Regions from separate parts of the Homo sapiens genome. Here region 2 is linked to region 1. A link means that fine-mapping ties the variant in region 1 to the expression of a gene that starts in the linked region. Tissue or cell type: whole blood. Region 1 holds a variant in brackets; the other region holds the start of a gene. All regions are shown on one strand. Distances are between the middles of the regions.

Region 1 (8,105 bases):
GGAGAGGGCAGAACGCGGCGAATGGCCGCGCTCGAGGGCTGGCGGGGTCCCAGCGAGCAGCGGCTGGGAAACAATGGCGCGAGCGTGACGTGGGCCGGAGGCGCCGCCGCGGCGCGGAGGAAGGGGCTGCCGTGGGACTGTAGAGTCTGTAGAGTCTTTTGGAATTTATGTGATTACAATCTTGCAGTCTGTGAATAGAGATGGTTTAACTTTCCTGTAATCTTTATACCTTTTAGTTTTGTTGCTGGCTAGTATGTCCACTATTGAATAGAAATAGTGATAATGGACTTCCTTGTCTTGGTTGTAAAATCAAGAGGAAAGCATTCAATATCAAGTGCTTTTTCTACCTTTATTGAAATGTTCATATGTATTTTTAATAATAATATGTTACTGTTATATAATAATAATTTTAAAATAATATTTTAATAATAATGTTACAATGTGACCAATTACATTGGTTAATTTTCAAATGTTATCTAAATGGCCGGTTGTCCTTCCGGATCCCCATTGATTCCGATTGGGATGACACTATAGGAGAGGCAGAACCAGTGAAGGAAACATAACGTTTATTCAGGAGTTACATACAGGGGTGGTCCAGTGGTGGTGGGCTGGCCTGGAGAAACGCTACCGTTTGTATAAAAAAAAAAAAGCATGTAGTCCATATAGCATATCGCATTTTCACTTAGAACCCTCCTTCTAGCAGTCTCCATTTAACCCAAAATAAAGGGCCTTGATCACCTGTACAGGCTGTGTTCCAAGGGATGGGGCAGGGGTATGGCTGTCCTTCATAGGTAAGTAGTGAATCTCAGTGTTGGCTACTCCTGGATTCCTTAGCCTGGGACTCCAAACACACTTAGAATAGGGTTATTCTCAGGTATGCTCCATTTATGGCTCAGCCATACACCAAGGTGTATACACCAACCCCTGCCATGCACCAATATGCATATAAATATGAATAGCCTCTGAAAGGGCAAATTCCTAGATTGACCTATAGGCCCACATGAAAAGTTCTATATTAATAGCTATGTCATGGCTGAGCACAGTGGCTCATGCCTGTAATCTCAACACTTTGGGAGGTCGAGGCGGGTGGATCCCTTGAGGCCAGGAGTTGGAGACCAGCCTGGGCAACATGACAAAACCCCATCTCTACTAAAAATACAAAAATTACCTGGGCTTGGTGGTGCACACCTATAATCCCAGCTACTAAGGAGGCCAAGGCACAGGAAACACTTGAACCTGGGAGGCAGAGGTTGCAGTGAGCGAGATGGCACCACTGCACTCCAGCCTGGGCAACAGAGTCAGACTCTGTCTCAAAAAAAAAAAAAAAATAGCTGTATCGTGGACATTGAAATTATAATGAGATAATAAAACTACCACCAGAATGACTTAAATTAAAAGGATTTCCAATACCAAGCATTGACAAGGATAGGAGCATTTTTTAGAGAGAATGACCAAGGAGTTGGCTACAGTCAGGTGCTGCAGAATCAGATCTGTGGACCTTAATGTGCATCTGGTGAAATAAATAACTATAATGGTGAAGAACAAAGCAATTGCCCAGGAATCCTACTGTGGTCTGAGATAAGAAGATCATTCCTATTGCCACATCCCTGGAGGCCATTTTTCTTTTTTCAATGACTGATCATCCTATTCAGAGTGAGAGGATCTGGCGTGAAAACAAGAGGCCTGTTGTACTATGGCAACTGAAAGCCACTCTTTTCCATGTACCATTGTTTTCAAGCCATTAATTTCCTATTAAACTTCATTTTCCTCTTCCTGAGAGTTTCGCTATAAAAATATATGTGTGTATAGATATATATTCCCAGCATAAGAGTGCTGTAACAGTGTTTTACATAGAACTTTTACAACAATTCTTTGAAGTGCTTTATTGTTCCCATTTGACAGGTGAGGTGATTTCGGGCACAGGAAGGCTGAATGACATTTCCAAAGTCACCTCCTTGTAAGAGGCAGTGTCAGAAGCTGACAATGGACTTGACCACTATGCTGTCATAGCAACAGAGAGAAATAATTTTTAAGACAATCCATGTATTTAAAAAATATTTTTGTATCTCTTGTGAGTTTTTAAAAGAATCGTTTTGAATTTTTTCTTTTTGATTGTGATTGAAAACACCAATGCTTGTTTTATAGGCAAATATCATCTATAGTGATCAGAGATCCAAGTAAAATATAGATGTGCTGATCTTAGCATAATCTTAGAAGAATAATTATATACAACCAAATGGAATTTCTTAAATGCACAAATGGAATTAAAAGAGGAGGTTCTTTTCCATCTTAACCAAGAAGGAGGGCATAATGGAATGACCATGTGCTAAGCAAGGGAGCAGGAAAACAAGTAGGAGGGAAAACACTGCAGAGGAGAAACTAAATTACCATGAGTGTAGAAAGAAAATGAGGACTTGTGAATATGAAAATATCAAATACAGTATTTCAATGTCAGGATGGTTCACTATATTAAAACTCAAGTCCATTATGCACAAGAAAAACTGGAGGTAATGATTATACATTGACCCAAAATAGTACCAACATGAGCACTGAGCCTGGGGATGACATGAAAACATTCTTAAACAAGAGGAAAGATCAAAAATAATGCAATTCTGAAAACCGCTGAAGAGCATAATGTTTTTTTCTAACACAAAAAGCTAAATTCATTTACTTTTCTTTGCTGATTTCATGAGGGAAAGGAGTCTCACCATAATAAAGAGACAATAGATTTTTTCTGTCATGACACACTTATGGTCTCCATTTGGTATATTCTGTGCACAGAGTTGGTGAAAACACTATATTTACTATTTCTGAACAGAATAAGGTAATTCAATCAGCTACATCTTATACATGATCACAGGCATGGAGGTGTCATAGAAACACCTCTACAAATCTTGGAAATGTTCATGCAGATAAGACAGGGCAGCTGGCAAATTAATTTCCAAATTATATTAGAGAACTTAAAAATAGGCTGGGTGTGAATGGCTTATGCCTATAATCCCAACACTTTGGGAGGCTGAAGCAAGAGGATTGCTTGAGGCCAGGAGACCAGCCTGAGCAACATAGGGAGAACCTGTCTCTACAAAAATTTTTTTTAAGTGTGCTGAGTGTGGTGGCACATGCCTGTGGTCCCAGCTACTCAGGAGGCTGAGGTGGGAGGATCGTTTGAGCTGAGGTATTCAAGGCTGCAGTGAGCCACAATTGCACCACTTCACTCCAGCCTGAGCAATAGACCTGTCTCAAAAAAAAAAAAAAAAGATTTCATGACTTTATTCAAACCAACAATGATGAACAGTGAGGATTACATTAAATGAGAAGCAGTTAGGGGCTGGTTTATGGTCTTGACCTCCATTCCTTCTCCACGAGTGCAGCCCATGACCCAGTGATGATTTCCCCTTCCCTGCATTGCATTGGCACTGACTTAGTTTCTAGACCAGAATCCTGTTTTCCAGACAAAAGCCCTGCTCCATCTCCCAGCACACTTCCTTCCCTTGCAGGCTATGCCTTCTAGACTGAAATGGAAAATACTCACCTTATTTTTCCCTTGTTGCTGGGACAACAGGTGCAGGGTGATGCTCAGGACAGCCAGTGGGTGAGTGCGTGGAGGGAGGCATCCAGGTCTCAGATATGGGTTTGTGTCCTGTGACCTCACCTTTTCACATCACTGCAATGAGCAGTTCACCTGTGGCAACAATGACAGTGCACATTTGGGGAGCTAAAGATATTTCAATAAACTTTGTCCCAGTTACCAATTACCAAAAACAAGTACAATTTTCTGTGAAGGGGGCCAGCCCCTCCACACCTGTGGTTGTTTCTCATCCGATGGAACGAGAGACTGAGAAAAGAAAGAGACACAGAGACAAAGTATAGAGAAAGAAACGTGGGCCCAGGGGACCAGCACTCAGCATACGGAGGACCCGTGCCAGCACCAGTCTCTGAGTTCCCTCAGTATGTATTGATCATTATCTCTACCATCTCGGAGAGGTGGATGTGGCAGGACAATAGGGTAATAGTGGGGAGAGGGTCAGCAGGAAAACATGTGAACAAAGGTCTCTGTGTCATGAGCAAGGTTAAGAAAAGGTGCTGTGCTTTGATGTGCACATACACAAACATCTCGGTGCATTAAAGAGCAGTATTGCCACCAGCATGTCTCATCTCCAGCCCTAAGGTGGTTTTCTCCTATCTCAGTAGATG[G/A]AACATACAATCGGGTTTTACACCGAGACATTCCATTGCCCAGGGACGAGCAGGAGACAGATGCCTTCCTCTTGTCTCAACTGCAAAGAGGCCTTCCTCTTTCACTAATCCTCCTCAGCACAGACCCTTTACGGGTGTTGGGCTGGGGGATGGTCAGGTCTTTCCCTTCCCACGAGGCCATGTCTCAGGTTATCACATGGGGAGAAACCTTGGACAATACCTGGCTTTCCTAGGCAGAGGCCCCTGCAGCCTTCCACAGTGTATTGTGTCCCTGGGTACTTGAGATTAGAGAGTAGTGATGACTTTTAACAAGCATACTGCCTTCAAGCACTTGTTTAACAAAGCACATCCTGCATAGCCCTAAATCCATTAAACCTTGAGTCAACACAGCACATGTCTCTGCAAGCACAGGGTTGGGGCTAGGGTTACAGATTTAACAGCATCTCAAGGCAGAAGAATTTTTCTTAGTACAGAACAAAATGGAGTCTCTTATGTCTACTTCTTTCTACATAGACACAGTAACAGTCTGATCTCTCTTTCTTTTCCCCACATTCTAGTGGGCATCTCTAGCAAGATGAGAGTGTTTGGCAGAGGCTGTTGCTTTCCATAATCCCTGGAGGCAACAGGAAGGGGCTCCTAGGGAGGGAGCAGGAAGGGGTGAGTCTAGACTAGGGGCTGGCAGCAGAGTGCACATGTTTTACTGGAGTCTGTGCTTTCCTGAGATGGTCCCCTACAGAAAACCCAATTTTCTGTTAATCCTCAGATTCCTGAGCCAAACTATTATTTCACTGTGAACGGAGAGACGGGATCATGCGAGGAACTTGAGAAGGATATGTGAACAGATTACAGTGCAAACAGCAACTTGAAGTCAAATACTGATATGAAAAATAAATGGGAACAATGTTGGGCATTCCAATGTAAATTAATCAAATGTAGATGTTATATATTCTATAAATATATATTTTATTAACGTTTACCCCTAGAGAGATAGAGATTCTAAATTGTACAATATTTATAAAAGAAAAAGAGACATTTATCAGAGTCCCTCAAATACACAGAAGCACCAAGTTCATATGATCCAGAGAGAAATTCTACTAGTAAACTAACTGATAACCTGACGCTACCTAAACTATTCAAGTCTTAGTCAATCTTCCCAATAGTTTTCAGGAAGGGTGCATAAAGGTGATATGAGATCTTACCCTGGTTTGAGCCATGTATTACAAAAGTATAGGACATGTGAATATAAATGTAGACTTTTTAAATATTAGAAGCCATTGTGTCAGCACTAGAAGCCACTGTGTGAGCACATTGCAACATTACATCATAATCCCACTGCCTTTTGTGCCAGAAATGCAAGTGAGAGTCAACACTTGGAAATCCATTAATGTAATAAATTATGTTAACAGAATCAATCAGAATGTTATGTGTTCATGTTCATAGATTTAAAAAAAGACATTGCCAGGATTATGCAGAAAATCATATTTAAAAAATTGATAAGGAACTAGTGTAAAATATATACATATTTTTAGACAGGGTCTTGCTCTGTCACCCTGGCAAGAGTGCAGTGGTGCAATCATAGTTCACTGTAGCCTCGGCCTCCTGGGCTCAAGTGATCCTCTCACCACAGCCTCCCCAGCAGCTGGGACTATAGGCACATGCCAGCACACCCGGCTAATTTTTTGTTTTTTTTTTGTATCTCGTAGAGACAGGGTCTCACTATGTAGCCCAGGCCAGTCCTGAACTCCCGGCCTCAGTGGATCCTACTGCCTCAGCCTCCCAAATTACATGCATGAGCCACTGCACCTGGCCCTAAATGTTTCTTGAAAGCAAAATCTACTTTCTATAGAGGTGGGCCTGAGTCAACCCTTTCGAAGCCATTAGGGGCCAGGTGTGGTGGCTCATGCCTGCAATTACAGCACTTTGGAAGGCCGAGGCGGGTGGAACACCTGAGGTCAGGAGTTCCAGACCAGTCTGACCAACATGGGAAAACCCCTTCTCTAGAAAAAATACAAAAATTAGTTGGGCATGGTGGGCACGCCTGTAGTCCCAGCTCCTCAGGAGGCTGAGACAGGAGAATTACTTGAATCTGGGAGGTAGAGGTTGCAGTAAGCCGAGATTATGCCATTGCACTCCACCCTGAGCAACAGAGCAAGATTCTGTCTAAAAAACAAAAGCAAAAACAAACAAACAAAAAAAATTAAAAAGCTATTAGGACAGTCTTGGAAGAAAAAGTCTTGGAAGGAAAAGTCTGTTGGGTAAGGATTAATTAACCAGTACACAGGCAGGCAAGGTGACCCCTAGTGGTCAGCTAGTCTCAGAAAAAAATTTATGCATCTAGGGAAAAATTGGTCACAACTAGGCAATTAGATCACAGCCTGCCCATCAAGTAAAACAAAATTCTGTGTCAAACACATTGTAACACAGAACACTGGTACAAATCTTAAACATTCCCTGATAGGCATCGTAGAGTTTTTTGGTTTGTTCTGTTTTTTTTGTTTTGTTTTTTGCTCCCTAGAGATTAATAAGCAGAATGGGACCCTCAAATTTCAAAGCATGCAATAATGGTCCCCCCACTACTGGGACCCCTGCTAGTTACATGTTTAAAAATTAATTGATAACTGATTTTGGCCAGGCGCAGTGACTCACGCCTGTAATCCCAGCACTTTGGGAGGCCAAGGCAGGCAGATCATCTGAGGTCAGGAGTTCAAGACCAGCCTGGCCAACATGTTAAAACCCCAACTCTACTAGTGGCGGCTCAGGCCTGGAATCCCAGCTACTCTCGAGGCTGAGGCAGGAGAATCACTTGAATCCGGGAGGCAGAGGTTGCAGTGAGCTGAGATCACACCACTGCACTCCAGCCTGGGTGACAAGAGCAAAACTCTGTCAAAAAGAAGAAAGAAAGAAAGAGAAAAAGAGAAAAAAATTAAGGTCCTCTCTGATGCATGTTTTAATTTGTATTTGTATAAATTTAAGGGGTACGAGTGTAGTTTTGTTACACGAACATACTGGGTAGTGGTGAAGTCTGGACTCGTAGTGTAAACATTCCCTGAAGAGTGCACATTATATCCACTATGAAATTTCTCAACCCTCACCCCTCTGACTCACACACCCTTCTGAGCCTCCAATGACTATTATTCCACTCTGTGTCCATGAGTATGTGTTATTTAGCTCCTATTTATAAGTGAGAACATGCAGTATTTGACTTTCTGTTTCTGTTATTTTACTTAAGATAATGACCTTCATTTCCATCCATGTTGCTGCAAAAGACATAATTTCATTCTTTTTAAAATTTTGAAGTTTATTTTAGACATAGGGATACATGTGCAGATTTGTTACATGAGAATATTGTGGATTTTGTTGTTTTTATGGCTGAATAGTATTCCACTGTATGCATACCACATTTTCTTTAGCCAATCATCTATTGATGGACACTTAGATTGATTTCATATCTTTGCTATCATAAAGATATGGAATACAGCAATCCTGCTACTGAATATATACATAAAGGAGACATACTATATAAAAAAGATATCTGCACTTGTATGCTTAGAGCAGCACTTAGGTTGATTCCATATCTCAAAGATATAATATTTCTCTTTTATCTATATATCCAGTAGCAGGATGCTGGATCCAGCCTGGGTGACAAGAGCAAGACTCTGTCTGAGAAAAAAAAAAAAAGAATGAAAGATAGAACCTCACAACAGATTCAACAGAAATTTTAAAGGAATTTAAGATATTATGAGGAACAACAAATGTCAACAAGTTTAGCAACATAAATGAAATAAGCAAATTCCGATAAAGACATTAAGTAGCAAAATTGACTAAAGAACAAATAGAAAATCTTAATAGATGTATATAAAGTAAAAAAAAATTGAATTAGTAATTAAATATATTCCCCCTGAAGAAGAGTG
Region 2 (8,105 bases), 68 kb before region 1:
CTGTGCCATTGGGGCCCGAAACAAAAAGCTGGTTGTCGGCGAAGTGCCAGATTGCATCTGGTGACAGATTAGACACACAGTGAGTCGGGGGAGAGGCCTGAGCCCAGACTTCCCTCTCAGGTGTGCCCTCCCCACCCTCCCATGAGTTATGGGTAAGTAGCAATACTGCTGTATTGCAGCAGGCAGAGGGGGTGGCGTGGGGTGGGGTGGAGGGCCTGAGACTCTGTTATTGCCCAACTTGTTTCTTTCCCTTCGTGCCCCCTACCTTGACCCTGTGCGTGAATGAGTGAGTCATGAGCCCGGGGCCTGGGCAGGTCCTAGCCGTCTGTCATCAAAAGGCCTGGTGCCAGCAGGTCCTGAACAGAGGGACGGGGGTAGTGGAGGAGGACAGGGTGGGGAATGCTTACCATAATACAGCCCAAAAACTATTCCAGCACCCAAGAAGGCTCCCAGCGTCTGTGCCAGGGTGTAGATGGGCAGCTTGATCCAGGGCTCACGAGCCAGGAAGCACATGGCAAAGGTCACGGCAGGGTTCAGGTGGGCCCCTGGGCAGAGGGGACAAGGGACCTATTAGCTGCAGCCTGCCACAGTCGGCAGGCTAGGGTCCCCTGAGAAGGGGTGCAGAGAGGGGTTTCTTGCACAGGATGGCGGTTGGTCTATGTAACAGGTCAGCTGATAATCTCTGATTCCAAGGTGAGAGTCGAAAGTTCTAAGTGTCAAGTTTCTTCTCCACCCTCCTTTCCCAAGGGGCCAAAGCAGAGGCCACAGCTGTGACCTGCCCTTAGGAATGCCAGGACACCTAGTGGGAATGCTATTGAGGGCCAAGGGCTGGGGGCAGGGTTAAGGCCTTACCAGAGACCTGGCCAGCGATGAGGATGCCCAGAGTGACAGCAAAGCCAAAGGCCAGGTTGATGGTGAGGAAACCACCGTGGGTGCCCCGGCTGAGCACAACCTGGGCCACGGAGCCACAGCCAAACATCTGTCAGGAAGAAGAACAGGCAGGGAGGGTGAGGACCAGCAACTCTCACTCCAGAAGGAAGGGGTGAAGCCAGCAACATGCCCACTCGCCACCACTGGGAGGACTAGAGGCGCTTCCTGGAACCCAGCCCAAACCCCTTCTGCTGTAATTGCACTTTCCAGAAAAAGGACACATGCCTTCCCACCCCACTGTCCCAACTCTAATATGAGAGGGCCCTATGGAAAGGGCTGGAAGCAGGGTCTGCGACTGGGATCCTAGAAGATGACTGAACCATCTTCACTGATTTTCCTTGAATTTCAGCAGGCGTAGGTGTAGGGGAACAGCTTTCACCTTAGCACAAGTTTCTCCACAGCCCTTCAGGCCTGGACCATAAAGGTGGGAAGCCTCTCACTCATCCCCCAGCTGCCCCAAAGAAAAGCTCATGTAGGCCCGGTGCAGTGGCTCACACTGTAATCCCAGCACTTTGGTAGGCCGAGGTGGGTGGATCACCTGAGGTCAGGAGTTTGAGACCAGCCTGGCCAACATAGTGAAACCCCATCTCTACTAAAAGTACAAAAATTAGCCAGGCGTGGTGGCAGGTGCCTGTAATCCCAGCTACTCGGGAGGCTGAGGCAGGAGAATCACTTGAAAATGGGAGGCAGATGTTGCAGTGAGCCAAGATTGCGCCACTGCACTTCAGCCTGGGCGACAGAGCGGGACTCCATCTCAAAAAAAAAAAAAAAAGAGTTGAAAAGAAAAGCTCATGTGGTGGTGGTAGTGGTGGCAATGGGCGGCATAAATAAATAGGGAGGAGACCAGAAGTGAGGTTGAATCCACTTCTCCTGAGTCCAGGATGCCAGAGCCCCAGCCTTCACCATGTCCCCCTCAACAACCTCCCCTTCCTTTACCTGTCCCTGTCCCAGCGTCTCCTCTCTCCACCCATGACCTCTCTGCTCTCAGGGGTCCAGATTCCCCACTCAGATTTGGAGGTCCTACAGACAGGGATCTGTGTGGCTCCTCTCACTATCCCCAGCCCGGGACCCAGGGCTGTAGAAATGGGGAGATCGGTTCTAAACTTTCTGCCAAAAATGGGGGAACTAAAAGAGACTAAGAGCCCTGGTGTTCTACAAATATAGAACATACTGGAGCCAGCTGTGGTGGCTCACACCTGTAATCCCAGCACTTTGGAGGCTGAGATGGGAGGATCTTGAACCCAGGAGTTTGAGAACAGCCTGGGCAACATAGTGAGACTTTGTCTCTATTTAAAAAAGAAAAAGAACGTACTATGTCTGTTCCCCTTGTTCAAGCCTGAAAATACTTCTGCAGCAGCTGTAAAGCATTGTTGCCCTGAGCCCCCTGAGTGTCCCTCAAAGCTGCTCCAATGCCTTGCCCTGGTCTCCTCTCCCACCTGCCCATAACTAAAGGTTTTATGCCCACAGAGCAGGCAGTTTCCAGGACCTGTGCTACAGACCTTGTTTATTCTGACGGGTCAGTGCCTGTTGTACTGGATAGTTAAGCATTTTGATTATCATCCCAGAAAGACCAAGAGATAACGGAGAAGCCAGCGGCAATGACATGGGGCAAAGGTGTGCAGGCAGGTGAGAGCAAAGATCAGAGATTGCAGGTGTATGTGTGAGGAGGGGTGGTGGGAGACAGGCACGTGAGGGTCTGAGGCGCCCTGCCCTGCTTGGGAGGCCCTGGCAGCAGCTCCTTGCCTGCCAAAGGCTCAGACCTGGCTCCATCCCAGGACGCCTTGGAGGGAGGAGCTGTCAGAGCCAGTTCCACCACCTTGGGGCTAATCTTCCTCTTCCTCCCCCAACCCCTGCCCTGAGTTCTCGGCCAGCACCGCCCCCTGCCCTCACACCAGGTATCTCAGAGAAAGGGGCTTTCCTCACCCCAAAGCCAACCCTGATTCTGCCACTGCAGGCCTAGGCTCCCAACACGCAGGTAGGCAGGCAGGCACTCACCCACTACAAAGGGATCCCCAGGCCTGCCCCTCCAGTTCATGCAGTCCTTGAAGTTCTGCTTCTCACTGATATCCAATACCTCACATCCATCTGAGTCTGCAACCCTTCCCCTAAAATTTAACACTCTTCTTTTGTGGTCTGGGATAAGCCTGATGATCCTGGGGCTCAGTGGGAGGACTAACGGCTCCTTTGTGAGAGAGTGAACTGAGACTTGGGAGGGAATGAGGAGGCCCCTCTAGGAAAATAGAAGACATCATCCTCCCCTAGCCTGGCTGCTCTAAAACAGGTGGCTGGACTCAGGACTCCGATAGGAGTGAGGGCTCCGAGGCAGGAGAGTGATAAAGGCCACCTCCTATTGCCTTCTTGGCACAGGAGAGAGGGGCTAGGGCTGGCTGATAGGACGACTAATCTTATGGGAGGCTGTGGATAAAATGCCCCCTGTGGCTTCCCCACTTCCTATTCTTGGAAGCCAGAAGTGGGTTTCAGCCCTCCTCTGCCCATAGATCCTGATCCTCAACCATTTGGGGATCCCTACTTGCCCTTAGTTAGGCTTCCTAGTCCACAGTGGGCCAGCTGGTCTGTACTACCCAGGGCTGGGGCAGGAACGGAGTAACCCACTCACTGCAATGTAGCAACTGAACACAGAGGAAAACAGGTGTAACCACATGAGCGGCTGAAAAATCAGAGTAACTGGGACAGGAAATAGAACATAACTGGTGGGTCTGCCAGACCTAAGAAGTGCAAACAGAGTCACTCAGAACAAAACCAGGGTGAAACTGGTGTGACCAAGGAGTAACTAGGACTGAGGAGTAACTCAGGCAGGGAAATGCTCACTCAGAGAACCCACAGAGTAACCAAGAGGCCAGGGAGTAACCAGAATGCTTGTCGTCTTCTGCACAGACGCTGACAGCATCTGTCTGGATAACAGACAGGGCCTGGGAGTCGCTGAGCACCAGGTGAGCAACTTTAGACACGCGTCCTCTGTGCCTGGGCCTAGCTTCCTCCCACCCTTCTACCGTCAGAATCTGCCTCCCTTCCCACTTCGCTGTTCGCAGCCCATGTGGCCTGCACCCTCTGCCCCCACTCGTGCAAACTGTCCTCACTCACTTCAACCTTTGGACTTTTTGAGGCTTAATTATTCATTAGAGGCCAGACACCCAGGACCCAAATAACCTAATAATGGCTCATTTGCCTCCGCCCCCTCCCCTACATCTGGGGGCTGGGATTCTGGGAATCTGGAGGGGTGTGGGAGGCAGGGGAAGTGGCTGGCTGTCCCAGACTGCAAGCGTGACCGCTGCCCCCAGCCTGTTGGCTGAGTCACTTGTGGGAGGGTAAACGATCGGCACTATCACTGGGGAGTAACAGCTGTCATTCTGGCAAGAGTCGGAGCTGTCAGAGAGGGGGTTAGAACCGTGGGGAAGAGGACTTTGGAAGTCAGCTTGATCCTCCGCGGTTAAGCGTGGGGGTCACAGCTGGGGAGGTGGGTCCAGGCTACCTTGGAAAACACAGCCCCTTCGGGGAAGTGAGAGTTTGGGGAGTGCAAGGGCTGGAGAGAGAAGGGCTTCCCCGGCTCCCTCCACTCACCACCAGGATGAGGGTCCCCAGGCACTCGGCCAGCGCCTGTCGGAGCAGCCGGTAGCGGATGTGGAGCATCTCCCCGCAGCGGGACACCAGCTCCTTCTGTCGACCCATGGCGGGGCAGGCGGCGGCGCTGTCGGGCGGGCAGGGGTGGCGGGAGGCGGTGGCGCAGCGAGCAGCGGCCTCCAGCGCTGGTGGCTCCCTTTATAGGAGCGCTGGAGACACGGGCCCCGCCCGCCCTGCAGCCCCGCCCTGCAGTCCCGGAGCGCCGAGGAGTGCGCGCCCCCTCGCCCCCGCCCCACCTCGGCTGGGAGGCTGGTGCGGACGCCGGGTGGAGGGAGCTGCGGGCATGGAGTGTGAGGAGCTTTGAGGGACGGGTGGCCTTCGGAGGGCGCTTAAGGGAGGGGACGTCAAGGGGGCTGAGAGGCTTAGGCAGATCTGAGAGCCAATGGTGGGATTATAGGCAGGGTTCAGGGCCATGGCTGGAGAGGATGCAGCTGTCATAGAGACCACCTGCGCCCTGTGATCACCCCACTTCCTTGCGGGCAGGAGGAGACCTGTCAGAAAGAAACTGGCCGCATCTCTCCAGGATGACTGGACCCAACAGATCCTCAGTTCGAGGCAGGAGGAGGAGGCTGCGAGCCCCAAGTGAGAAGCAACACTGTCTCTTCTGTCAGGACAGATAAGGCACCGACCCTTCAAGGGGACAGCTAGTGTCAGAGGGGCAGCAGTCCAGACTCAGGTGGGCACACAGACACACGTGCTGAGTTCCAACCAGACTTCATGGGCCCTTCTCCCTGTGCTATGAGCACGTCGTGTGTCGCATGTCCTGGCCAGCTATGTCCACAGCTGTGTCTACACATGGCGGATGTCCTGTGTGCCTAATTGTACGGCTGGGCATTCCTCGTGGCTGTGCACATGCCTGTTGAACATGGCTAGGTGACCTAGCTTGTCACACGTGTACCTGCGTGCATTGCTCACATGGCTCCAGAGGCTGAGCTGCAGTTGCCCCGACATGCCACATGCCACATGTTTGCCAGCAGGCTGAGTCCCAGCTGTTTTTAACCCTCTCCTCTCCCATCTGACTTACCCCCAGCCAAGGAAGAGTCTGTCTCTTTTTTTTTTTTAGACGGAGTCTCTCTCTGTCGCCTAGGTGGAGTGCAATGGCGTGATCTCGGCTCCCTGCAACCTCCACCTCCCAGGTTCAAGTGATTCTCCTGCTTCAGCCTCCCGATTAGCTGGGATTACAGGTGCACACCACCATGCCCAGCTAATTTTTGTTTTTTTAGTGGAGATGGGGATTCACCATGTTGACCAGGCTGATTTCGAACTCCTGACCACAAGTTATCCACCCGCCTCAGCCTCCCAAAGTGCTGGGATTACAGGCGTGAGCCACTGAGCCCAGCAAGTCTGCCTCTTTAAGCAAACTTAATTATGGGGGAGTCAGCCCTATCTGAGGGGGATCATGGGACAACCTTGCCCTCTCTCTCTTTTTAAAGAGTAGGGTCTTGCTCCATCACCCAGGCTGTGGTGCAATCACAGCTCACTGTAGCCTCGAACTCCTGGGCCCAAGTGATCCTCCCACCTCAGCCTCCAGAATGGATGGGACTATAGGGACTATGTGCCACCATGACACTCAGCTAATTTTTAAAAATCTGTTGTAAAAATGAGGTCTTGCTATGTTGCCCAGGTTAGTCTCAAACTCCTGGCTTTAAACGATCCTCCCACCTCGGCCTCCCGAAGTGCAACCTTGCCCTCTATGCTGCTTTTAATAACAAGGAAACATCTGGTGGCCTGGGAGCAAACAACATGCCCTTAGGCTGAGCTTCTATGGCAGCATTGCCAGAGGAGATCAAAGAAATCATTTTCCAGAGGGACTTAATCCAGGTGGGCTAATGACCCTGAGGACTTGTCCCTTGAGGGACGAATATGAGAAATAAGGGCCCCCGGCTGGGCGTGGTGGCTCACGCCTATAATCCCAGCACTTTGGGAGGCCGAGGCGGGCAGATCACCTGAGGTCAGGAGTTCAAGACCACACTGACCAACATGGTGAAACCCTGTCTCTACTAAAAATACCAAAAATTAGCCGGGCGTGATGGCGGGTGCCTGTAATCTCAGCTGTTCGGGAGGCTGAGGCAGGAGAATCACTTGAACCCAGGAGGCGGAAGTTGCAGTGACCTGAGATCATGCCATTGCACTCCAGCCTGGGCAACAAGAGCCAAACTCCATCTCAAAAAAAAAAAAAAAAAAAAGGGCTCCCACGGTTCATTGAGAAGCGAGCAGGGCTAGTGCAGAGGTTCTTCTCCCAGAGGGACCAAAAGAGAGAAGGGTTAGTCCTGTCGTCCTTGATCAGAAATGTGATCAGCACCAAGAAAGCCCCAGGGGCCACTGGGACCTACAGTCAAACTATGTTAGGTGACAGGACCATTGACATTTCAGGACAGATAGGCATGGACCCTTCAAGTGGACAGGTTGTGTCAGGAGAGGTAGCAGAAGAAGCTAAACAAGCTCTTAAAAACATGGATGATGACTCACTCCAGCCTCTAGCTCATGGGATCAAACAATCCTCCCACCTCAGCCTCTCAAATAGCTGGGACTACAGGCATGCATCACGATGCCCGGCTAATTTTTGTATTGTTTGTAGAGAAGGGGTTTCGCCATGTTGGCCAGGCTGGTCTGGAACTCCCGAGCTCAAGCAATTTGCCCACCTTGGCCTCCTAGAGTGCTTGGATTGTAGGATTATGAGTATTGCTAAACCCATCTCTTTGGGCATCAACCACCTCTGCCACATGCCTGTAATCCCAGCTACTCGGGAGGCTGAGACAGGAGGATCACTTGAACCCAGGAGGCAGAGGTTGCAGTGAGCCAAGATCACCCCACCTGGGTTCAAGCGATTCTCCTGCTTCAGCTTCCCGAGTAGCTGGGATTACAGGCATGCACCACCATGTCCAGCCAATTTTTTTGTTTTTTGTTTTTTGTTTTTTTTAGTAGAGACGGGGTTTCACCACGTTGGCCAGGCTGGTCTCGAACTCCTGACCTCAGGTGATCCACCCGTCTCGGCCTCCCAAAGTGCTGGGATTACAGGCATGATTCACCGTACCTGGCCTAGATAGGCATGTTAAAAAAGAAAAGAAAAGAAAGGAAATAAGGGCTCCCAGTCCCAGAGGTGGTTCATGCCCAAAGAGATGGGTTTAGCATACACATGAAGTAGATTCACATACATGCAGGTGCTTGCGCATACACACACACAAACACACAGACACACACACACACCCTGTGGTTTGCAGTCACACACTTGCCTATAGACACTGAGCTCTGCTCCCATGATCAGGGATCCCATTCACATGAGAGCCTCGCCATGGGCTCACACATATATAGAACCCCCACATGAGGACTCTAATGACCCTTGACCCAGAAAGATGCACCCTACCCTCCAGGCCTCTATAGGCTGGGAGGCCCCGTGGTGAATCAGGGAGCCATCACTGAGTACCTGCCCTCTGGCCCCACTGCCAGCCTGTGACTCAAGACAGAACCATAGACTCCTGGTGCCAGGGCCCAGATCACAGGCTATGGGAGTGGTAGAGCACCCCTGCCATGCTGCC

What was found. PIP is the estimated chance that this variant, and not a neighbour inherited with it, causes the effect.
Region 2: AQP3 starts here. The variant in region 1 is fine-mapped to the expression of AQP3 in whole blood (TOPMed, PIP above 0.99).

What each region holds. Positions count from the first base shown.
Region 1 is chr9:33,511,092-33,519,196 of GRCh38, forward strand. It overlaps the pseudogene SUGT1P1 and the pseudogene VN1R47P. Among named protein-coding and RNA genes, the nearest start is that of ANKRD18B, 9.1 kb to the right of the region's middle. The variant G/A (reference allele first, on the strand shown) is at 4,195.
Region 2 is chr9:33,442,914-33,451,018 of GRCh38, forward strand. It overlaps AQP3 (aquaporin 3 (Gill blood group)), which reads right to left and starts at 4,680. Exons shown (of 6, transcript NM_004925.5): 1 at 4,510-4,680; 2 at 853-979; 3 at 408-545; 4 at 1-57. The coding sequence starts at 4,617. RefSeq lists an enhancer at 1-1,032 and a silencer at 4,666-4,855.